2 linked regions of the Homo sapiens genome follow. Changing the gene in region 2 together with the main gene of any one other region gives a genetic interaction. Each region holds a gene or a part of one and is shown on either strand. Other genes may lie near its edges. The genes, in order: PPP2R2A and CMAS.

Evidence for each region.
Region 1: changes in CMAS (region 2) and PPP2R2A together harm fitness less than expected from each alone (positive genetic interaction), as found in Homo sapiens cells (one large-scale study listed by BioGRID).

Annotation. Positions count from the first base shown.
Region 1 is NC_000008.11:26,364,294-26,368,124, forward strand, and holds part of PPP2R2A (serine/threonine-protein phosphatase 2A 55 kDa regulatory subunit B alpha isoform), read left to right. Parts: intron 1-2,021; coding exon 2,022-2,113; intron 2,114-3,831. UniProt on the Homo sapiens protein: Substrate-recognition subunit of protein phosphatase 2A (PP2A) that plays a key role in cell cycle by controlling mitosis entry and exit. Involved in chromosome clustering during late mitosis by mediating dephosphorylation of MKI67.
Region 2 is NC_000012.12:22,052,485-22,056,315, reverse strand, and holds part of CMAS (N-acylneuraminate cytidylyltransferase), read right to left. Parts: intron 1,168-3,831; coding exon 1,025-1,167; intron 862-1,024; coding exon 706-861; intron 1-705. UniProt on the Homo sapiens protein: Catalyzes the activation of N-acetylneuraminic acid (NeuNAc) to cytidine 5'-monophosphate N-acetylneuraminic acid (CMP-NeuNAc), a substrate required for the addition of sialic acid.

The sequences.
Region 1 (3,831 bases), on a different chromosome or scaffold from region 2:
GGTGTGCCAAGTCAAATGGACTGGTGTTCTGCCTTTTGGCAGATAACTGTTGTCTTCAGCTAAAAGAAAGGGCTTGAAAGCCTTAGCAGATGGCTTTAGGAGTTGCCTATCCGTTGTTGGATGTCAGTTCTTGATTCTCTTATCAGCCAGCCACTACTGTTTATCCGTGTCCACTACATCAAACAGAAGAGAATGAAGTACACAGCCTGGAACAGGGTGAGGGACAGCACAAACCTGTGCTAGGCCCTAGACTGCAGTGTTGAAATCACTTAACTCTAATTTATACATATACTTTCTTTATGTTATATATTCTCAATAGACTGGGAAGTATGTTTCTCAAACTTTAAATCCTCTGACAAACATAAACGAAGATTGTTTTTGATACGTGAAATTTCAAAATAAATACTGCACTGAAACAAAAGACAAAATACTGCTTTGCTTTTCAAAGTATAGTTCACTATTGAGCAACATGGATTTGAACTGCATGGGTTCACTCATACACAGATTTTTTGTTTTGTTTTGTTCAACCAATGCACATTTGAAAATACAATATTTGAGGGATGCAAACCCCTCAAATATATGGAGGGCCAAAACTTCACGTGTGGGTTCCGCAGGGCTAACTGCAGATTTGGGTATACCTGGGGTTCTTGGAACCCATCCCTCGTGTATACTGAAAAAAGACTTCTATTTGTGTAACTGCCAAGATTGATATATCTCCTAGTTACCCTCACCATCATTTCATTCCCATTGAGAAGAATTGATTTGAAGCTTAGCTTCATACTGATGTATAGTGAGAAACTCTATAATGTGCATTCTAAAATGTTGCTAAATTATGATAATCTACCTAATTTTACCTGATTTGCTACTTTTCTACTTATAAACAGTTGGAGTAGTGATTAAAAGTAGTCACATTATAGGCAAATGTATCATATATAGATAAAACTATTTTTATTGAATTTGTACCAGCATCTTGCCAAGTTTTGTGTGATTGAAGGGTATTTTTTTCTTACTGATTTTTTTGTGTTACATGCTCACTTTTGATCCTAACCCCACATGAGTTGCTATTCCTCTGTATTACAGATTTTCACTTAATGTCACAGAGACATGGCCTGAATCATTCCACTATATTTAAAGTTAAAATAGACACTGAAAATAAGTTTAGATTGTTTCATATAGAATAGAGAATTCTAAGCATTTAGAAGGTACCTTCTCATTTCTGTCATTTCTCCTTAAGTAGCTCCTTAAAAAGAGATGGTGAAATATAGACACTTCCTTTTTTCCTTTGAGTTACAACAAATACTTTGGAACTTTTGTTTGTAATTAATATTAATGTTGAAATATGTCATATTTCTCAGACTTTTTAAATATGAGATTTCTAGTTTATCCTTTTTTGACATATTAGTAAATACAGAATTATATAATTCAAAAAACAGGCACAGCTTTGTTAGCTTTTGACATTGTATAATATGATACTATCAAATTTTTAATAATATATGCCCAGAATAACCATATAATTTATCACCAAACCAAGGCATGGTTACGCTATGCATACATGTGCATTTATAATGGAAAATATAGGCTTCAGTTAAATTTATGCCCAGAAAATGGTATTTAAGAAAGAAATAGGCACAGTTTCAGTGTTGTTATCAGTAGTTAATGGACTGAAAGCCAAGAATAGTGATATTCAGATATTGCTATAATGTTCTTTTATTAGTCTCTTAACTGTGCCATTTTCAAGTGTTTTTGGCCTGAATGTTTTATTCAGGCTTATAAAGGCTATGTGTGCCATGCCCAGAATGGAGTTTTCCTTTGTCATACCAGTAGGAAAATGTACCTCCCTGAAGGGCTTGTGTGTTTTGTAAAAGGACAAAATGCCTTTATTGTTACTGAGAAGATTGAGATTAATAGGTTTAAAAGGTGTGTGTATGTGTCTGTATATGCCCTTTTTTTCTTTTTAAAGATATGGACTTGTTAAATCATTTTCCTAATTTCAGTGCAGTATATTTGTATTTTTCCCCCAGGTGCATGAATACCTCAGAAGTAAACTCTGTTCACTGTATGAAAATGACTGCATATTTGACAAATTTGAATGTTGTTGGAATGGATCTGACAGGTAATTAAGTCAAACCTCTCAAATATGAATTTTATTAAAGAAAAGAAACAACTATTTCATTCCAGGTCCTAACTTCGTCTCTAGGGATTCCTTGAAATAAATTTAGTAATTTTAGATATAGCACAGCAGTACTGGTAGATAAAAAATTAAAGCATTGTATTTCACTAGTAAATATAAAAGTACACAAATTCTAGGTAATCTAAATTATTTAAATGTCTAGAATTTTTTTTCTTTTATGAACCAGATCACATTTCTGACATGCTAACCATTAAAACGGTGAAGCTTCAGCTTGGTTGTTATTCTTCCATTAAACTGTTGCAGAAACATTCAGGCGGCAGATAACTCATTTGGATTGTTAGAAACACCAGGTTTTCCAGATGCTACATTAACACCTCATAGAAGTGGTCTTTCATATGTATGTTATGTATGATGTTAACCATAATATATATGGTTAAAATTTTAGTAGTAGTTATCCTTTGCTTTTTATAATTTCCAGTTTTGCCGTAGTGTAATTCCTTTTTCGTATTCATTTTTAGTAAAATGTTACCCATTATTTAAAGATAAAATAAGTCTTACTTTGAGTCTTTTAGTTGTCTATTTGCCACTATGTTCCAGTAGAACAGAAAGTAGTAAAACATAATTTTGGAATTAAACTGACATTTAAAGTAATCAGAGATACTTCAACAACAGTTTTATCACAGAGCTTAATATGATTCCGATTTCATGGTGTTGTGTGTTACAGAGGATAATAGAACTTATAGAATGTTTTCTTTCATCTGGCTTTTAAAATTATCTGATTTTTGACATAAGGACTAGTAAACCTAGAGTTCTGTTAATAGCAAACATTGCCTTTGAGTGCTACTACTAAACCTGAGGCATCAAGAAGAAAGAAGGAAAGGGAAGAAGAAAAAAAAGATTAACAAATTTGAAGAGTAAAGAGATACTGAAATAAGGTGTGGCGCACAGCTACAACCAGTTTTTCATTGTATTTAAGCAGATAATTAGCAGTTTTATGTTCTATTATCAGAAAAAAACGATTTGTTTTCCTTAATATTAAAAATTTTTTTTTAACTATTTCAAACTTAGAGAAAATTTGTTAGAATAACACAAAGAACTCTTGGCTGGCCTTGACCCAGGTTCCCCTGTCGCTGTTTGCTGTATCACGTGTTCTATTCTCTGTTTATTTATAGCTATATTTGTCCACATAGGTACGTGCGCATGTGCTCACATGCAACTTGTGTGCCACATGGGAATTTATTCCATTTACGCCAGATGTGATGCCCATAACCCTAAATTCTTGAATGAGTATTTCCTGACAAAAACACTTTCCAACATAGTGACAGTGCAGCATCCAAAGCAACATTCACAGCGATGCAGTACTGCCATCTAATCCGGAGACCCACTGAAACTGACCAGTTACTGTAACTATGTCCTTTATGGCACAGAACAAAGTCAGTCTGGTTCAGTATCCAGCATTTAGTTGTCATCTCTTGTTAGTCTCCTTTATTCTGAAACAGTTCCTCAGTCTCTCCTTGTCTTTCATGACCTTGGCATTTTGAAGAACACAGGCCAGTTATTTTATAGAATGTTTCCTCATGATTAGATTCAGGCTATACATTTTTGGCAGGAATACCACAGAAATGCTGGCCTAATGATACCTTTTTAAAGTTTCAAGTAGCCACAGCCTAGGTGTCCTAATACATTAAAACCACGCAAAC
Region 2 (3,831 bases):
AAGAAAGAAGCAGATTACAGAACTGTAAGTGACTAGATGTTGAAATTTGCAATCAAGGACTTTCAAATAGCTATCAAAAATATGTTAAATTAGAGGAAATGACCTTTTTTTAAAATGGATAAAAAAATGGAAAATTTCAACAGAAAATGGAATCCCTACGAAACAACTAAAATGTACATTACTGAATGGAAAAACACAGTGTTTATAATAATTCTCTGGATAAGATTTATAGCACACTGGACATGGCAGGCAAAATGCCTAGTAAACCCTAGGGAACCCTTCTTATATATGGAGTTAGGAATTTGGGGAAGAACTTCAAAATGTCATTCTTGAAATCCTTCAGAACACTTTGGTGGATGCTTTCTATCTCTATATGACTTGTATGGAGTTCATCAAACATGTCTAGAACAAACATAAAAGTATTTGATCTAGAAAAACAGCATATCTGCCTCAAAAGGCAAACAGAAATAAGAGGATTAGAATGTCCCTTTGTAAAGAGTAAAGCAAAGAATTAATTTGGTCTAGCTGTGTTGGCTCGATAACAGATTTACAGCTGATTGTAAATGTCATTACCTACTAAAGTAATGAGTCAAATACTCTCTTTTACAGCTCCCCTTTTACTCTCCTCATGCCTAAAGGATATTTATATACAAAAAAATTGATTCTCAATAAAATCAGCTAAAATAAAGACTGAAAAGAGATTACCTCCTTTCTGAATTTCACTCCATCGAAACTGATGGCGTCTCACAACAGAGAAAACAGAATCATATCCTTCTTCTCGAATCATTTCTGCAACTTTTTGAAGATCAGTAGGATGTAAACATGGAGAAGTAGCTTGAATATTTCCTACAATGTCAACCTCTTAAAAAGACAAGAGAAATGAAAAGGATATTTAAAAAAAAAGTTCCTTGCAAGCAAGTAATATTAAGGTTTGGAATTCAAATGTTAAAACAAGTCTTATAAGATAATAAAGGAAGTAGAAAAGTACATAAAGGTTTGAATAAACTATTAATCAAATTCATACCATTATGATAATTAAGAAATTCTATGATGGCATCTAGTGAGGTAGAGCTGTCTTTTGAAACTTCAGAACTTCTTCGATGAACTTGTGCACCAAATTGTTTGGCCACATTCTCAATTTCATCATGGTCTGTCGAAACCCATACACTGTTCAGATATCAAAAGAAATTAACAGCCAAATCAAAAGAAATCATTAACAATAAAATGGAGCTCTGTAACCATAAAATACAGCTTATATAATGTGAGAATATTTTTTGCACAATGATAATAATGTTACAGATCCAAAGGAGTATAAAATGTAAGAAATTATAAAGTATTTTGTATATAAATATATTAATGAATAAAAATGCAGTCCTAGATATGCTTTATATAAAGAAAGGAACAACAGACACTGGGGCCTACTTGAGGGTAGAGGGTGGGAGGAGGGTGAGGATCAAAAAACTACCTATCAGGTACTATGCTTACTACCTGAATGACGAAATAATCTGTACACCGAACCCCTGCAACATGCAACTTACCTCTGTAACAAGCCTGATGTACCCCTGAACCTAAAATAAACGTTTTTAAAAAGGCACTAGAAGTCAAATCTAAAGAAAATTAAAGATCTTGCTTATTCTCCATCCAAATCCAAAATATTGTATAAAATATTTTAATATGCTTGCTAAAAAAAAAAAAATGGACTTGGCTTAGCCAAACCCTAAAGGTGAAACAGTTTCAAGCTTAGAAGATAATAAATGCCCAAGTCTGGGCTCAAAAAAAATCAGATGAAACAACTCTTTCTTTTTTAAACAACAAACAATGGGTATATAGATGTAGAATCAGCTGGGTTATAGCCATTGATAACAACAAACATGAAGAACATGACTTCATTAGCTCAAAAGAATTTAACTTAATACTCTATTAACCGCAGGTTACACAGTTGCCTATTTAGCCTTTACAAAATGATGAGTAGGCAAAATGCTGTTTTGGAGAGGGGTACCAGTTTCTATTGAAGTTTTGTTTCCTGGACAGTCACAAATTCCCACTGCTAAATGCAGAAGATGTAAATACTACTCTAGCCACAATGTTTGGTCAGGCCTGGAGTCTCACACCTGTAATCCCAACACTTTGGGAAGCCGAGGCGGGTGGATCACCTGAGGTCACGAGATGGAGACCAGCCTGGCCAACACGGTGAAACCCGGACTCTACTAAACATACAAAAATTAGCTGGGCATGGTGATGCACACCTGTAATCCCAGCTACTAGGGAGGCTGAGACAGGAGGATCGCTTGAACCTGGGAGGCAGAGGTTGCAGTGAGCCGAGATCGCGCCACTGCACTCCAGCCTGAGAGACACAGCGAGACCCTGTCTCAAAAAAAAAGACAAAAAACAACAACAAAACCCTGCCATGTTTTTTTGTTTTGTTTTGTTTTGTTTTGAGACGGAGTCTCGCTGTGTCTCCCAGGTTGGAGTGCAGTGGCGCGATCTCGGCTCACTGCAAGCTCCGCCTCCCAGGTTCATGCCATTCTCCTGCCTCAGCCTCCCAAGTAGCTGGGACTACAGGCGCCCGCCAACACGCCCGGCTAATTTTTTGTATTTTTAGTAGAAACGGGGTTTCACCGTGTTAGCCAAGATGGTCTCGATCTCCTGACCTCGTGATCCGCCCGTCTCGGCCTCCCAAAGTGCTAGGATTACAGGCGTGAGCCACCGTGCCCGGCCCCCACCATGTTTTAATAGTGATTTATGCAAAGATATCTTAATGACTTATAGTCTTTGGTGTATGTGTGTGTATATATATATATATATTTGGTGTGTATATATATATATACACACACAAACATATATACACATTATTTTATATACATACAAAATTATATATAACGTGTATATATAATGTGTATATATAATGTGTATATGTGTGTGTGTATATGTATACATATACACACACACATATATATTTTTCCTTTTATCCCACTCTTTCGATATCTACTGAGGGAAAGATGAACTGCATGTTTTGTTTGTTTTTTTGACAGAGTCTTGCTCTGTCACCCAGGCTGGAGTACAGTGGCCCATTATCTGCTCACTGCAACCTCCACCTCCCAGGTTCAAGCGATTCTCATGCCTTAGGCTCCTGAGTAGCTGGGATTAGATTACAGGCATGTGTCACCACGCCCGACCAATTTTTAGTAAAGATGGGGTTTTGCCATGTTGGCCAGGATGGTCTCAAACTCCTGACCTCAAGTGACCCTCCCACCTCAGCCTCCCAAAATGCTAGGATTACAGGTGTAAGCCACCACGCTCGGCTGAACTGCATGTTTGTCTATGCTCAATTATCATGAGTGGAAAGAAAGTGAAAAACTAAAGAAAATCTTCTAACATCCCTGGATTTCATTTATTTATTTCGTTTATTCCCTTTAATATTTATAGAGGGATTTAAATCAAGGGATAAAGTCAGTAAGAAAAAATAATCAAAGAAAGCCTAGCAAACAAGATGAGCCACTGGCTAGGGGTCAAGAATCCCGTGATATCTACTTATGTCACTCTATGCAGGGCGAACGCAGGAGCCCCCATTTTCCTCCATCTTGAAATCTGAAATAGTGGGAAAAAAATGTTCTCTTGGGAAATGTCATAGTCAAAGGTATATAACAAAGTAAAGTAGCAATGAAAACCTAGTGCATTTTTAAAATAGAGATGACGAGAGGATAAGATGAAATTAGAATACAATAAAAAATAAACAGGGAAGGCAAAAGACATGGTAATTTGGCATCTAATTTACATTAATTGAAATAAATTGCTGAAGCCATTTACTTCATTATCCTGATTTTTACTGCA